2 separate regions of the Homo sapiens genome follow, and region 2 is linked to region 1. A link means that fine-mapping ties the variant in region 1 to the expression of a gene that starts in the linked region. Tissue or cell type: skeletal muscle. Region 1 holds a variant in brackets; the other region holds the start of a gene. All regions are shown on one strand. Distances are between the middles of the regions.

What was found. PIP is the estimated chance that this variant, and not a neighbour inherited with it, causes the effect.
Region 2: CACNB2 starts here. The variant in region 1 is fine-mapped to the expression of CACNB2 in skeletal muscle (FUSION, PIP 0.92).

The regions. Positions count from the first base shown.
Region 1 is chr10:18,462,720-18,470,827 of GRCh38, forward strand. All of the region lies in intron 3 of CACNB2 (calcium voltage-gated channel auxiliary subunit beta 2), which reads left to right. Among named protein-coding and RNA genes, the nearest start is that of CACNB2-AS1, 73 kb to the right of the region's middle. The variant G/T (reference allele first, on the strand shown) is at 4,294.
Region 2 is chr10:18,136,855-18,144,962 of GRCh38, forward strand. It overlaps CACNB2 (calcium voltage-gated channel auxiliary subunit beta 2), which reads left to right and starts at 3,570. Exons shown (of 14, transcript NM_201596.3): 1 at 3,570-4,002. The coding sequence starts at 3,883. RefSeq lists an enhancer at 1-35.

The DNA.
Region 1 (8,108 bases):
AGTATTTTATATTTTTTACTTACGTATTTTATTTTTTATTTTTATTTATTTATTTTTGAGACAGAATCTCACTCTGTTGCCCAGGCTGGAGTGCAGTGACACGATCTAGTCTCACTGCAACCTCCACCTCCCAGGTTCAAGAGATTCTCCTGCCTCAGCCTCATGAGTAGCTGGGATTACAGGTGTGTGCCACCACGCCCAGCTAATTTTTGTATTTTTAGTAGAGACGGGGTTTCACCATGTTGGCCAGGCTGGTCTCGAACTCCTGACCTCATGGTCCACCCAACTTGGCCTTCCAAAGTGTTAGGATTACAGGCAAGAGCCACCGCACCCGGCCACTTATTTCATTTATTGACCTCACTTCATGCTCCACTAAGAAATAAAAACTTCACAGATAGCAACAGCCTCATCTTGCCACCACCAAATCTGTAAACCTGCCTTTATCTGTGCCCCTTGTGTGTTCTCCTTCTTCCCTCCTGTTAGAAGAAGCATCTCTCCTCCTGTCAGAATCCTCCTGTTCTTGGCCAGGCATGGTGGCTCACACCTGTAATCCCAGCATTTTCGGAGGCTGAGGCAGGAGGATCATTTGAGCCCAGGAGTTCAAGATCAGCCTGGACAATATAGCAAGACCTCTTATCTATTAAAAAAAAAAAGTTTTTGTGTTCTTTGTTTCTCACCTTCCAAGACTTTTTCTTTCTCTTTTTGGAATCAAGGTCCTGCTTTGTCACCCAGGCTGGATTGCAATGGCACAAGCATAGCTCACTGCGGCTTCACAGCTTCAACCTCCCAGGTTCAAGTGATTGTCCTACATCAGCCTCCGGAGTAGCTGGGATTGCAGGTGCACGCCACAATGCCCTGCTAGTTGTTTTTTTTTTGTTGTTTTTTGTTTTTTTTTTGTAGAGATGGGGTTTTGCCATGGTGCCCAGACTGTCTGGAACTCCTGGTCTCAAGTAGTCTGCCCACCCTGGCCTCCCAAAGCAGGATTAGAGGTGGGAGCCACCGTGCCTGGCCCCAAGAGTTCCTATCCTGCAGCATCTAGTCATCCCCTCTCTACTGGATCACTCCATCAGCATGACATATTATGGACATTATGGAGTGGCCCATGATCAGAGCCCAAAACACCACATCCCAGCTCCTCCCGCTCCATGCAGCCTCCTAGCTCTGCCCCCCTTCCCAGCCAGGCCTTTGACAAATGAGTGGTCTGCACTTAACTTCTCCCTTCCTCTCCTCTTCATGTCCAGATATTCCTCCCACAGCTCTAACACATTGCTCCCAACAAGGCCACTAACAACCTCTGTGCTGTCAGAGAAGTCATAAACATCGTCTTATCTTACCCAAGCTGTCAGCGGCCTTCACAATCGTTGAACCCTACCTCCAACTTGACATGTTCTCTGCTCTTGGCTTCTGAGACACCATGTTCTCTGGACATCTCTTGCCAGTTCTTTTTTTTTTTCTTTTGGGGAGGGAGTGGTAGGGACAGACAGACTCCTATCCCTCTGCATAACTTCTCAAAGTTAGGGTTCTTTAGCACTTAGAACCTGGCTCTTTTCATTAGCCAGGTGTGGTGGTCCATGCTTGCTACTTGGGAGGCTGACATGGGAGGATCACCTGAGCCTAAGGAGGTCGAGGCTGCAGTGAGCAGTGATCACACCACAGCCTTCCAGCCCGGGCAACAGAGTGAGACCCTGTCTCAAAAATTAAAAAAAAAAAAAAAAAAAAAAGAATTTGGCTCTTTTCTCTTTACTTCTCACTCTTAGATTCAATTTTTATTTCCAAGCTTCCCCACTTGTATATTCACACGGACCTCAAACTTACCCAAATCGGAGCACCTGATTGCCCACCTCTACCACCCAACATGTTCTTCTCTCAGGCTCCCCCTTTTCAATAATGGCCCTAGCCATCAATAAGCCCTGTTGTTTCTATAATAACTCTAAAATACACCCAGCTTCACCACTACCACACATCTCCAAGCCACCATCCACTCTCATCTGGACTCTGCTTCTGCTCTTATTCCTTTCCAACGTGTTCAAAAAGTTAAACTGGAGAAAATTGACAGCATCTGCATTTACGCAGGGGCGGTAGGAATGGGAGAGGAGGGGAGGCATTTTAAAACTATGTATTTAGTGGTTAGAACATGCAGATTCTAGTGAACCAATGCAAAGTGGGAAAGAACCAAGAGGAAGGAGTCCAGGTTAAAGGGATATTCAACAGAATGGGGCAGATGGGAAGGCCAGGCTTTGAACAGGTGACTTCGTCTTGGGACTTGTTGAGCTGTGGGAGGATCAGATGGATATTCTTGGAGGTGGTTGGATATAGAAAACTAGAAACAGCCGGGCATGGTGGCTCACGCCTGTAATCCCAGCACTTTGGGAGGCCGAGGCAGGCAGATTACCTGAGGTCAGGAGTTCAAGACCAGCCTGGCCAACATAGTGAAACCCCATCTGTACTAAAAATATAAAAATTAGCTGGGCTTGGTGATGCACACCTGTAGTCCTAGCTACTCAGAAGGCTGAGGCAGGAGAATTGCTTGAACCTGGGAGTGGGAGTTTGCAGTGAGCCAAGATCATGCCACTGTGTTCCAGCCTGGGCGACAAAGCAAGACTCTGTCTCAGTAAAAATAAATAAACTAGAAACAAGACTTCAGGGCTAAATATGTACATATAGGAATCATCCATGATAGGATGTACTTGAAGCCATGGAGGCAAATAAAATCACCTGGGAAAAAATGTACAGATGAGAAGATGAGAGTGTAATCCTGCTTCTTGCCGCAGGTTGAGTTTTTGGAGCACCCTCGTTCCACCTTCTAGTCCCAAGCGTGTGTTCCTCTTCTCTCCATAGCATTACCCTACCTTCATGTGGTCCTGGTTACTTCCTCCCAGGATGCATGCAAAAGGAAGCACAGTGTTCCACATTCCCTTTTAGTCTTGTTGATCCCAAAGATAAGTACGTCATCCAACTTCTTCTTTTTTTTTTTTTTTTCAAGATGGCCTCTCCCTTTGTCAACCATGCTAGAGTGCAGTGGCATGATTGCAGATCACTGCAACCTCTGCCTCCCAGGTTCAAGTAGTTCTCCTGCCTCAGCCTCCCGAGTAGCTGGGATTACAGCATCCACCACCTCGCCCAGCTAATTTTTGTATTTTTAGTAGAGACAGGGTTTCACCATGTTTCCCAGGCTGCTCTCGAACTCCTGACCTCAAGTGATCTGCCTGCCTCAGCCTCCCAAAGTGCTGGGATTACAGGCGTGGGCCACTGCGCCCGGCCCCAACTTCTTTATAAAGGTTTTGTTACTGAACATTTTGGCACTTAATAAAATTATCTAAACCTCCCAAGAGAGTGACAACACTTGACAAACACATACAGGCACACCTCCCTACCCTGGGGATGACTTATCTGACATTCCAGTTACGGTGCACGAAGCCAAGAATCCCTAAGTAGCAAATAAAACCTTTCAACCATTGAAGTAGAGTTATAACTTCCAGACACTAAAGCTGGAGTTCGTCTTTTGCCTATTTAATCTATATATTTTTTATTTTTTAGAGACAGTGTCGCTCTGTCACCCAGCCTAGAGTGCAGTGACATGATCATAGCTCACTGCAGCCTCAAACTTCTGGACTGAAGCAACCCTCCAGCCTCAGCCTTCTGCATAGCTGGGACTACAGGTCCCAGCACACCACCATGCCCAGCTAAATTTTTTACAGAGACGAGGTCTCACTATGTTGCCCAGGCTGGTCTCAAACTCCTGACCACAAGCAATGCTCCTGCCTCAGCCTGTCAATATTTTACCTGTATTTCTCATCAGCTTGGTTTTTTGGTCATGGTTGTTAATTTTTGAATTATATGAAAGTCCTACATAGAAGGTTCTCTCCTGGTGTTTTGGCAGATGTAAGAAAATTGATTTCGTTTGTAGCTGTTAATTTGAGAATCCATTGTAGATACTAGCAATTTCTGAAGGAATAAGAGATTCACACTTTAATGGGACTTCACAATCTTTCATCTAAAAATTCTAGCTCCTGGTAGGGAGACAAGTTCCAGACCCACAACTATTAGAAATATGTTAATAAACTGGGCCCCGGATTGAAGCATGTCTAAACAAACTATGGAATTTAATAATGTCCGAATAATGTGGAAATAATGTTTTCAGTGGAATAGGATGAGGCTGGGTGTGGTTCTCACACCTGTAATCCCAGCACTTTGGGAGGCCGAGACGGGCGGTTCACTTGAGGTCAGGAGCTGAGAGCAGCCTGGCCAACATGGTGAAATCCTGTCTCTACTAAAAATACAAAAATTAGCCGG[G/T]CATGGTGGCAGGTGCCTGTAATCCCAGCTGCTAGGGAGGCTGAGGCAGGAGAATTGCTTAAACTCAGGAGGCGGAAGTTGCAGTGAGCCAAGATCACAACACTGCACTACAGCCCAGGCAACAGAGCAAGACTCTGTGTTTGTTAAATAAATAAATGGAATAGGATGAAACAGAAAAACATTGTCATTTTTTGAAAACTCTGAAATAATCTATTCTAAAGTAATTCAATTGAAATAATAAATTCACTTTGCATTCTCCTTTTGCCACAAGATTCAAATATTTACTAACTGGCATCAACACTGGTGTTCAAATTCAGTATTGGCAATTTCACACTTGAAGACTGTCTGTGTTCCCAGAGAGTGTTAAGTCTAACTTTGAGGTCCACAAATATTTATTGGTGTCTGGTGTATGCCAGCAACTGGGAAAACAATAGGAGGTGGTTCCTACCTCAAAAAGCTTGCAGTTTGGTGAATTTACAGTCTAGTAAGACTAGACCTACGTAAAAGATACAGAGCAATGCAAAACAGTAGATGTCAGATGCCATTTGACTAACATACGCGTTAATTGCTGCAGGATTTCTAGGGAAGGAGAATCTGGTGGGCTGCAGTAGGAGAAATTGGAAAATAATTTACTATTCTCCATTGACAGTGGCAGTCAGGAACCTGGGAGCCCAATTTATTTGTCCCCTCAACCCAACTCAAATGGGTCCTCCCTTGGGAACTTTGCTGCCAACTTGCTCCTCTTCTAAACCCCTCCCCAGGCACAGTCTATCAACCCCAACTTTGCAAAACTTCCATTTTTTGTTCTTAACTATGCTAAAGTACTCACAATGCATTGCAATTGTTTGTAAGCCTGTCTCCTCTACAAGATTCTGATTTCCTGTTTTGTTATGTTCATCTTTGAATTCCCCTACTGCTTAGTATGATACATACAATATTGTTAGTGTCCCCAAAAAGTGTTTTTTTGTGAATTAAAGAAATGAATGAATTCACAATGTATGACTTGGGCCTTAAGGAAGATGGCATTCCTACATCTTAAAATTAGTAAACAGCATACCTTTACCAGGCACATGTTGATCAGAAATAAAGGAAAGTAAGTAGCCTGTAGAACTGGGGTGCTCAAACACCAATTTTTCTCAGGATTACTGAAAAACTTAAATATACAGGCCAGGTGTGGTGGCTCACGCCTGCAATCCCAACATTTTGGGAGGCTAAGGCAGGCCGATTTCTTGAGCTCGAGTTTGAGAACAGCCTGGGCAACATGGCGAAAACCCATCTCCACAAAAAACACTAAAAAAATTAGCTAGGCATAGTGGCATGCATATGTAGTTTCAGCTACTTGGGAGGCTGAGGCAGGAGAATCGCTTGAGCCTGGGAGGTGGAGGTTGCAGTGAGCTGAGATGACACCACTGCATTCCAGCCTGGAGTCAGATCCTGTCTCAAACAACAACAACAGTAAAAACAAAACAAACAGACAAACAACCTTTAAGTTATACAGCTAAATATAAAGTTCACCCCAAACTTAGTAAATCTGAATCTGCAGGCATTCAGGCAAAACTGCAGACTGAGCGTCTGATTTTTTTTGTTTTGTTTTATTTTGTTTTGAGACGGAGTTTTACTCCTGTTACCCAGGCTAGAGGGTAGTGGCACAATCTCAGCTCACTGCAACCTCTGCCTCCCGAGTTCAAGCAATTCTCCTGCCTCAGCCTGTGGAGTAGCTGGGATTATAGGCACGCACCACCACACCCAGCTAATTTTGTATTTTTAGTAAAGATGGGGTTTCTGCATGTTGGTCAGGCTGGTCTCAAACTCCAGATCTCAGGTGATTCGCCCGCCCTAGCCTCCCAAAGTGCTGGGATTACAGGCATGAGCCACCATGCCTGGCCATGCATCTGAATTTTTTAAAGGTGCCATAAGTGATATACAGCCAGGTGGTTACTATAAAATGTTTGCAGATAACTGGCACTGGTTGCTATGAAGAAGCAAATATTTTTAAATTTAATAATATTAAGAATTGTTTGACCCAGGAGTGCAAAAGCAGCCTGGGCAACAAAGCGAGACCCTGTCTCTACAAAAATTAAAATTAGAAAATCAGCCATGCATGGTGGTCCCAGCTACTCTGGAGGCTGAGGTGGGAGGATTGCTTGGGCCCAGGTGGTCCATCCTGCAGTGAGCTATGAGTGCACCACTGCACTCCAGCCTGGGTGACAGAGGGAGACCCTGTCTCAGGGAGAAAAAAAGAGAAAGCACAGAGCCTAGTTTGTTATATCACCCTTGGGGGTTCAAGGTCAGCACCATGGACATCGCCATTGGATGGGTTGGTTTTTATCATTCCTTCCTTCACACCAGTCTGTCAATTACCCCATCTTCCTTTATTTCGTTGCTAATATTTATGCCTCTCTAGTGTCATCCCACTTGATGTATTTAATATGTTGTTGGCAAGCATGGCAGTTAGCTCAACTTTTTAGCAGCTGTATTTTGAATGAAAACCAACCTCATGTTCCAAGTCCTCTTGCTTAATTCTAGCAAATTCCTAAACTGTATCCAAATCTAGAAGTCTGACCCCTATGTGGGGTGGTTCTTAGGAAAACTTATTTAGACTGTATTACAAGTAGTTCGGTTCTAACCTCTTAATTTTACATTTGTACAAATTGAGGCTCAGAGAGATGACGTTCTTGAGATGGAGAGTTACTGATAATAAACTAAGTTCAACAGTGTTTTCATGGTTTGGTCCAGAAGTTACTATAAAATCGTAACCACATCCATGGAAGGAATATCTAGTTACTAATAAAAATAAATCTAATGGTTGATACAGTTTCTCTAAATCCTCCCTACTCTTTATTAAAACCTATTTAACCACATTTATACATGTTTATGTACAATGTTATCCACCCCAATAAGTCCTGGGATCTTGAGGTTAAGAGTCCTGGTTCTATTCATCTTTGAATACAACCCAACAACAAAAACAGAGATTAATTATACTCATATTTTTTCTTTATCATGCTATAAATCCACTTTGCAGTTAATATCTATGAAAATTAATGAACATTTAAAATAAAGTATTCAACTTAGGAATTGAATATATATTATATATTTATTGAATGCGTTTTCATCTCTATTTAAGAAAACCAGATAATTGCACTAGCCAAAATAAAAAAATTTAAAATCCACATTAAAAAGAAATGTATTCAGGGCCAGGCATGGTGCCTCATGCATGTAATCCCAGCACTTTGGGAGGCTGAGGCTGGAGGATCACCTGAGGTCTGGAGTTTGAGGTTGGCCTGGCCAACATGTATATAATATATATATTGTATATAATGTATAGTATATATCATATAGACTGTGATATATTGCATATATTATATATAGACTATGATATACAGCATGTGTTACATATAGTATATAACATATGGTGTATATTATATGTGGTATATATTATATAGAGACTGATATACTGTATTGTATATATTACATATGATATACTGGATAGACTATGATATACTGTGTATATTATATATACTATTTACGTTATTCTGTATATATTATATATACACTATATCTCTCACCTTTCTATCTAAACCTGCTTCAGTTGCATTGCATGGAGCCTTTGCATACAGTTTGTTCACCCCTAAATTATACATGCAGTTCACCAGATCCTATTACGCTATGTCTGTTCCCCCTTTAAATTGATTTTTCACAAGCACTTAGCTTGGTGTCTTCAGCGTCTGGCACCTGGTAGGCATTGAGATGTTTGTTGCAATCTTTCTCAAATGCTGGGTGTGGATGGTGGTGGTGTCAGCAGCAGAATTAAAAGA
Region 2 (8,108 bases), 330 kb before region 1:
TACTTGCCCTCTGGTTATAAGCGTTATTAAAATTATTTTCAAGGTTTTGATTTTTTTGCGGTCTCTTTAAACATCTGATGAAAGATGAAATTCTACTTCCCAAATGGTCCTAATTGAAAGCGAATGCACAAATAAGCATGCTATAAGAAACTGGACAGACATCATGAGAAAACACTCAGTTTCACCAAACCTGGTGTTTTTTTTTAAATAATGTTTCTTCTTTTGTTTTCTCCTTCCTTCCTTCCTTCCTTCCTTCCTTCCTTCCTTCCTTCCTTCCTCCCTCCCTCCCTCCCTTCTTTCCTTCATTTATTAATTGGCTTTTAAGTGCTAACTAGCAAGACTGTAAGCCCCATGGAGCTGGTAACCTGGTCTTTGTTGGCTGTGCTCATCAGGTGGCACAAAATAGAAGCTTGATTCATACTTTATTGGATGACTATTGAAAGAACTCAGAGGGCAACTTGCCAGATTCTGAATGTGTCCTAGAGAATAAGTGTGGTTCCTGTCCACACAGAGTTTACAGTCTGAAATGGATTTAATGTTTTCCCTAAGATTTAAACACATGCTCAAGAAAACTTCACAGTTTGATTAAATGAGTAGGCCTAAAACAGTGATATTATCAACAGAGCATGGGGCAAAAGTAGACTATAAGTCGAAAACTTTAAACACAATTTCTTTTCCATTTTCACACACACATACATACAGGCATACATATAAAAGCATGGCTGATTGTTGCTGTTCAAAATGTTCCCATTTTAGAAATTATTACAAACCAATATTTAAGTGCTGCTGTTTAACATTCAGCAAAATTTAAATAAAAGTGGCATTTTAATTTTTTTAATTTTATTTTTCCATAAGTTATTGGGGTACAGGTGGTATTCGGTTACATGAGTAAGTTCTTTAGTGGAGATTTGTGAGAACCTGGTACACCCATCAACCTAGCAGTATACCTTGCACCATATTTGTTGTCTTTTATCCCGTGCCCCCTCCCACACTTCCCCCCAAGTCACCAAAGTCCATTGTATCATTCTTATGCCTTTGCATCCTCATAGCTTAGCTCCCACATGTCAGTGAGAACATATGATGTTCGATTTTCCATTCCTGAGTTACTTCACTTAGAATAATAGTCTCTAATCTCATCCAGGTCATTGCAAATGCTGTTAATTTATTTCTTTTCATGGCTGAGTAGTATCCCATCATCATATATATCAGAGTTTCTTTATCACCTCGTTGATTGATGGGCATTTGGGTTGGTTCCACAATTTTGCTACTGTGAATTGTGCTGCTGTAAACATGCATGTGCAAGTATATTTTTTGAATCATGACTTCTTTTCCTCTGGGTAGATACCCAGTAGTGGCATTGCTACATCAAATGGTAGTTCTACTTTTAGTCCTTTAAGGAATCTCCACACTGTTTTCCATAGTGGCTGTACTAGTTTACATTCCCACCAGCAGTGCAGAAGTGTTCCCTGATCACTGCATCCATGCCAACATCTGTTTTTTGATTCTTTGATTATGGTCATTCTTACAGGGGTAAGGTGGTATCACTTTGTGGTTTTGAGTTGCATTTCCCTGATCATTATTGATGTTGAGCATTTTCTCATATGTTTGTTGGCCATTTGTATATCTTCTTTTGAGAATTTTCTATTTGTGTCCGTAGCCCATAAAAGTGGCATTTTTAATACCAAAGTTTAGGAAAATCAATGATGCTTTATGGCTAAATCTTTAACTGTATCAAGACCCATTCTTTAAGCCTGGCGCAAATCAGTGCTATGGTGGAGATGATAGGTTTAAAATGTCTATGCTTATCTTTGAGGAGAAAAGTACTGTATCTCATGTAATTTAATATATCATAGTAAACTATAGAAGGCAGTTGAAGCCTATTATAGTAAATTTTTGCATGTGTATTTCAATATACCAAACTTTCAGTTTGTTGTTACAAAATAACATATAAATAGGTTTCTGGAGCTGGATGGGCACGGTGGCTCACACCTGTAATCCCAGCACTTTGGGAGGCCAAGGTGGGCGGATCATGAGGTCAGGAGTTTGCGACCAGCCTGGCCAACATGGCGAAACCCTGTCTCTACTAAAAAATACAAAAATTAGGCTGGATGCAGTGGCTCAAATCTGTAATCCCAGCACTTTGGGAGGCAGAGGCGGGCAGATCACCTGAGGTCAGGAGTTCGAGACCAGCCTGGGCAACGTGGTGAAACCCCATCTCTACTAAAAATACAAAAAAATTAGCCGGCTGTGGTGGCGTGCACCTGTAATCCCAGCTACTCGGGAGGCTGAGGCAGGAGAATGGATTGAACCCAGGAGGCGAAGGTTGCAGTGAGCCAAGATCGTGCCACTGTATTCCTGCCTGGGTGACAAGAGTGAAATTCTGTCTCAAAAAAAAAAAAAAAAAAATGCCTGGAAAACTCATTACAGAAGTTTCCACTGTAGTAAAATTTGTTGAAATAAGTTGCACTCAATCATGTAAAAATGTGGCTCCTTGGGACTATCTGAACGGAATGTTGTAAGTGAAACACCCTCACCATAGTCACTATCCTGTTATCAAGAATTCTGGATCTTAAGGAAGTGCTTGTTTTGTCAAAAATGTGACACTAAGACTTTTCACCCCTATAGAAAAACCTCAACCCTGGCCTGGCGTGGTGTCCCACCCCTGTGATCCCAGCACTTTGGGAGGCCGAGGCCGGTGGATTACTTGAGGTCAGGAGTTCAAGACCAGCCCGGGCAACATGGTGAAACCCCGTCTGCACTAAAAACACAAAAATTATCTGGGCTTGGTGGCCTGTGGCTGTAATCCCAGCTATTCGTGAGGCTGAGGCTAGAGAATCGCTTGAACCCAGGAGGCGGAGGTTGCAGTGAGCTGAGATCGCGCCATTGCACTCCAGCCTGGGCGACAGAGTGAGACTCCGTCTAAAACAACAACAAGCAACAACAACAACAAACTTCAATTATGTTTGGAAAGAAGTGCTAATTTAATTTGGCAAAGATGAAGACAGCAGTCATAAAGCAAAACATTCGGTCTCAGGTTGGGTGGATTCCCACCTAGTTGACGAGGCCAGCTGCAGATTCAGGTGGGATCACCTGATGATCTTTATCAATGCCATTTCTTTCTCTGGATCCTTATTACTGACATTAGCAAGGGCTTTCAGCTGCCCAGAAGATGTTCTTTGCAGACATTTGCTCTCCCGGGCTGCCAGCAGGCTTTACAAATTTAAAACTTTCAGTGTAGGAACCCAGCCTCCGTCGTCCTTCCCCTCCAAAGTTAAGAGATCTGCTCTAAGGGTTCCTGAGGGGTGGTCTGGGGCCATGGGAACAGGATCAAGGCCCCCTGAGCGCCGGGCCTGGCTTCTGTGGCTTCGCAAACTTTTCAGCCTGTGTGCCACGGCGACGCGCAGCGGCTGAGTCGGAGCCCACGCGGCGCGCGCCTCCCGCGAGGAACTTTTCGGCTTGTAGGCTGCTTGTCACTCTCGCTTTCCGACGCGCCTCCCCCTGGCTCGCGCTCCCGGAGTTCCCTCCCCTCCTGGCGAGGACCTTTCCCGGCGCCCGCGGCTCCGATCCCCGCCGCGCTGCGCCCGCTCTCCCGGCCCCGGCTGCCCCGCTGAGGGCTCCCCTCTCCCAGGCACCGCAGCCGCGCCCCCGCGTCCCGCCTCCCGAGCGGCTCGCTTCGCCCGATGCCCCGGCCCCGTCCCGCGCACTGAGCGCCTGGCAGCAGGGCGCCGAGTCCCGGGGCGCTGCGGGGCGCTGCGCCGAGAACGGCCGGGCCTGAGCCCTGGGCGGCCCCCAGAGCCGATCAGAGCGCGGGGAGGCGGGGGCGAGGAGGAGGGGACCCGCCGCCGGGGGCTGGCTGCTTCGCTCCGAGCCGACTTTTCGCCAATGGTCCAAAGGGACATGTCCAAGTCGCCTCCCACAGCGGCGGCGGCGGTGGCGCAGGAGATCCAGATGGAACTGCTAGAGAACGTGGCTCCCGCGGGGGCGCTCGGAGCCGCCGCACAGGTAGCGAGAGCGCGGCGCCTTCTCCTTCCTTTGTGAGCCGCCGGGCAGGGCACCGACCTCGGGTTCTCCCGGCGCCTCCACTGCAGGGATCTCTAGCCTCGCACCTCCTCCCCTCGTCGCCTGCCCACCCTCTGCTCCTCTCCTGGCGCCGGGGACCCTGCCCCTTTGCGCCTTTTCCTGGCTCTGCCTCGGCTTCCATTTTTCTCTGCTTCCGAAAAGCCAGTGGGGAAGGGCGGGGGAGACCTGCCAGTCCTCCCAGACTTCTCCCGGGTTGCTCCAGCTGGCCCTCCTCGCCCCTTCCCGGGAGAGGCACATGGAGAGACATGAATCAGGGGAGTGGACTGGACCTGCTGAAGATCGTGAGTCCGGGTGGGCGGGAGGGGGCCCGCTTCCCGCAGCGCTTTCTACGATGCCGACTCTCCTGGCCACGCTCCGAGCCGGGGTGGGCGTGGGTGTGAGGATGATGGGGTGCAGGTGGGCAGGAGGGGAGCGAATATGGGGGTGCCCTGCCGGATCCCCCCAGAGCTGCCCGGACCACGCTGCGCACCTGGGGCTGACAGCTCTCCAGTCCCCTCGGGCACTTGCCAAGGTTTGCCTGTCCCACCTCATGCCTTTCCCTTAAGAAGCGAGTGAGCTGGGGACAAGAAAGTTTTTATTTTTCCGTCTCCCCTGAAATGTTAGCCATTTCAGGGATCTCCAGGATCCCCTTTCTCTCCGTTGAGTGTTTGCGGTTTCTGGAAAAAGTCAGCTTCGCTGCAGGTTGTTGTGAAATTGGAGATGTCAGTTGTAGGCGCTGGGCAATGACAAGGTGGTTTTTACGTTTTTACGTAAGGCTTCAGCAGGTACAGTTTGGGTTACAGACACCTCCAGGTCTCAGCGATGAGGAGTCGCTCAACTTTTCTCCCGGCAGGGAAATGACTTCAGACTCCTAGCTGCGGGCTGGCTGTTGGCTGGCCAGTGATGTGAAGAGGTCTTGGTTACATTTCAGGCAGCATTCTGGAGAAATGTCTGTTTGCTTAACTGTGTTGGCTTGTTGATTTCAAGCCTACATTTGCCAGATTTTAATTTGCGGTAAGATATATATGTGTGTGTATATATACTTATATATTAATACGTAGACACACATACACACACTAGAGAGCATGTTAGAGTATCATTTGCTGTAGTAGTGGGGGCAGGAGTGTGACAAGCTAATAAAGGTGGCAAATGTTTTCTTGCTGTTGTTTTGATAGGTGGAACATGAGTGCTCTAGATATTTTGATATTGTAATCATGGCAGTTCCAAGTGGCATAGTAGTCTAGCTTTATTGAACTTTCTTTTACCATTGGGAAATTAATGTGCTAACTTAAAACACATAATTCACTTTGACTTGAGAAGGGGAAGAATGTGGACACCAAGGACTTGTGTAATCAGAAATCTATTTCTTTTGTAGTGGTAAAACAGCTAGATTTTGGTCCACCCTGGGCTGTTTGCTTCACAAGCCGAGTAGGGACATGTAATGAACCAGCTACATTCCCATCTGGCCTCTGCCAGAGGATCTGAATTTTAACCAATAGAGTTTGCATTTGTTCTAGACTCCTGATTTTTATCTAGATGCTTGCCAGGTTAGACAGAATGAAAAATGTACCCGGAGACCTCGGTTATTCTAGGATGAAGGTCTTGAATACTATCAGTATTCGAGTCCTCCATCAAAGGAAAGGACATTTAGACCCTCATTTGCCTTTGATCTTCCTTGAGGGATATTTTAGAAAAGTTTTTATTCTTATGATAAAAATAGAGTTCCTAAATTCCTGGACATCAAAGTCAGGGCTCACATAACTGCATTCAGATAAGAGATACTAATTTACTTTGTGATTTATGTACAATGATTAAATGTAAGTCAAGTTATTGTACAGCAGCAATGTGGAAATGATTCTGATGTGAAAAGACACAATTTCTGCCTTCAAAGAATTTATATTCCAGTAGCAGCAATTAGGATATATGTATAGGGGCTGGAAGAGAAGTTCTGACTAGTAAATGGCTTCAAAGGAATAAGGATAATAAACACGCTATTTGGAGGAATCTGTAAGGACTTCATTGATGAGGTGGCATTTGCAAAGAGAATTGAAGGATGGGTCAGATTACACCAGATATTTTTGAGAGAGTTGGTAAGCAGTCGTACATGAAACAGAGTCCCAGAAGTAAGAAGTCTTACAGGATAATTTATCGTTTCTAGTTCAAAAAGAGCATGGTAAGGTCAAGATTGGACACAGGCGTAAAACTGACAAAGCAATTTGAGACTACATCTTGGGGACTTGGAATCTTTAGTGTATTGAGCGACAGGGAACTGTGGAAGGAGTTCAAAAGAGGACCCACATAGCAGCTCATTTGGGAATATTCACTTGGAAATGTTCTGTAAGATAGTTTCAAGTCTTAGGAGTCCAGAGGTGAAGCTGCCAGGCAGCAGACAGATGTAACAGTTTGGGCCGAGGTAATAAGGCCTAAGCGAAAAAGAGATGAAAAGATAATGGATATGACAGTTCTATGTATCAAACATTTCAAAGTTCAATTCACAGGAATTAGCAAGTGATTGCATAGATAAAGGAGAGAGAAGAGAAAGGGCAGAATGGATTTTAAAAGCAAGTTTAAGAGATATAAATATTCAACTGCATCAACATTCATCTCCTTGCTTTCTCTGCCTTCCAAAAATGAAAGCAATTTGACTTGAATTGCGTTCATCTCACACCCATTATTTGAGGGAAACATTACCTTGTTTATTTTATATCTGATAAATCATGGCATCATAGGATTGTGTGAGGCTTGGGAAAGCCATCTCTTCCATCTCTCTGTTTGGGCAGAACAGACCAGCAGTAAAAACTGCCTGAGAAAGGAGGCTGGCTCTAGAGCATCCTCCTTGTATGTGGCACCGAGTAATTCTACTCAGAATTATTGGGCAGTTCTACCTAGAAATGGAGTTTCTATTTACAAATGGAACCTCTAAAGCAATGATTGGTTTTAGGAATCATTCTACCTCACCTCTGGATTATAGTATTATATTTGTATGAAGAAAGCAGAAGATGTAGATTTGCAAACTCTGCCATTTTCCTTTTCTGTATCAATCATTCTGTCTAGAGAGAGGGAGCATCCTGATACATTCCGGTCCCTTTGCCCCAGTACATTGCCATAAACAAAATGATACATTTCTCAAAGCCCTGGTTTTTGTTTTGTTTTGTTTTTGTTTTTGTTCTGTTTTGTGTTTTGAAACGGAGTCTCACCCTGTCACCCAGGCTGGAGTGCAGTGGCATTATCTCAGCTCACTGCAACCTCCACCTCCTGGTTTCAAGCAATTTTCCTGCCTCAGCCTCCTCAGTAGCTAGGACTACAGGCGCCCGCCACCATGCTCAGCTAATTTTTTTGTATTTTTAGTAGAGACGAGGTTTCACCATGTTGGCTAGGCTTGTATCAAACTCCTGACCTCAGGTGATCTGCCCGCCTTGGCCTCCCAAAGTGCTGGGATTACAGGCGTGCGCCACCATGCCCAGCCCAAAATGGATACGTTTCTTACATGGGAAATGAATGGCAATCTAACTGCAAATTCTTGAAAGTCCCCATTTAAGAAAATTGCATTGCTTTTTAGGTAACCTGTTGAACAGTTTCAGCGTGAACCTGGACACAGTCTACTTCCAAAGTCCAGGTGCTCATGGAGGACCCTTTCTCCAAGCTCCAGATCTGTCTGTTCATTGTGGTAGCTGCTAGCCACCTGTGGCTTTTGAGCCCTTGAAATGTGGCTGGTCTGAACTGATATGTGCTGTAAATGTGAAATACACACCAGATATCAAAGGCTTAAGATGAAATAAAGAATATAACACATCTTCATTAGTAAATTTTAAATTGATGACATGTTGCAATGACCATGTTTTGGATATGCTGGGTTAAACAAATGCATTGTTACAATTAATTTCACCTGTTGCTGTTTACCTTTTTAATGTGGCTGCTGGAAAATTTCAGTGATATATTTGGCCATATGACATTTCTATTGGGCAACATTAAAGTATGAAACTGGTAATTCTCCAGGGAATTGAATAGCTCCTGCGTGAAGGTTGGGTGAACGGGAAGCAGGTGACAGG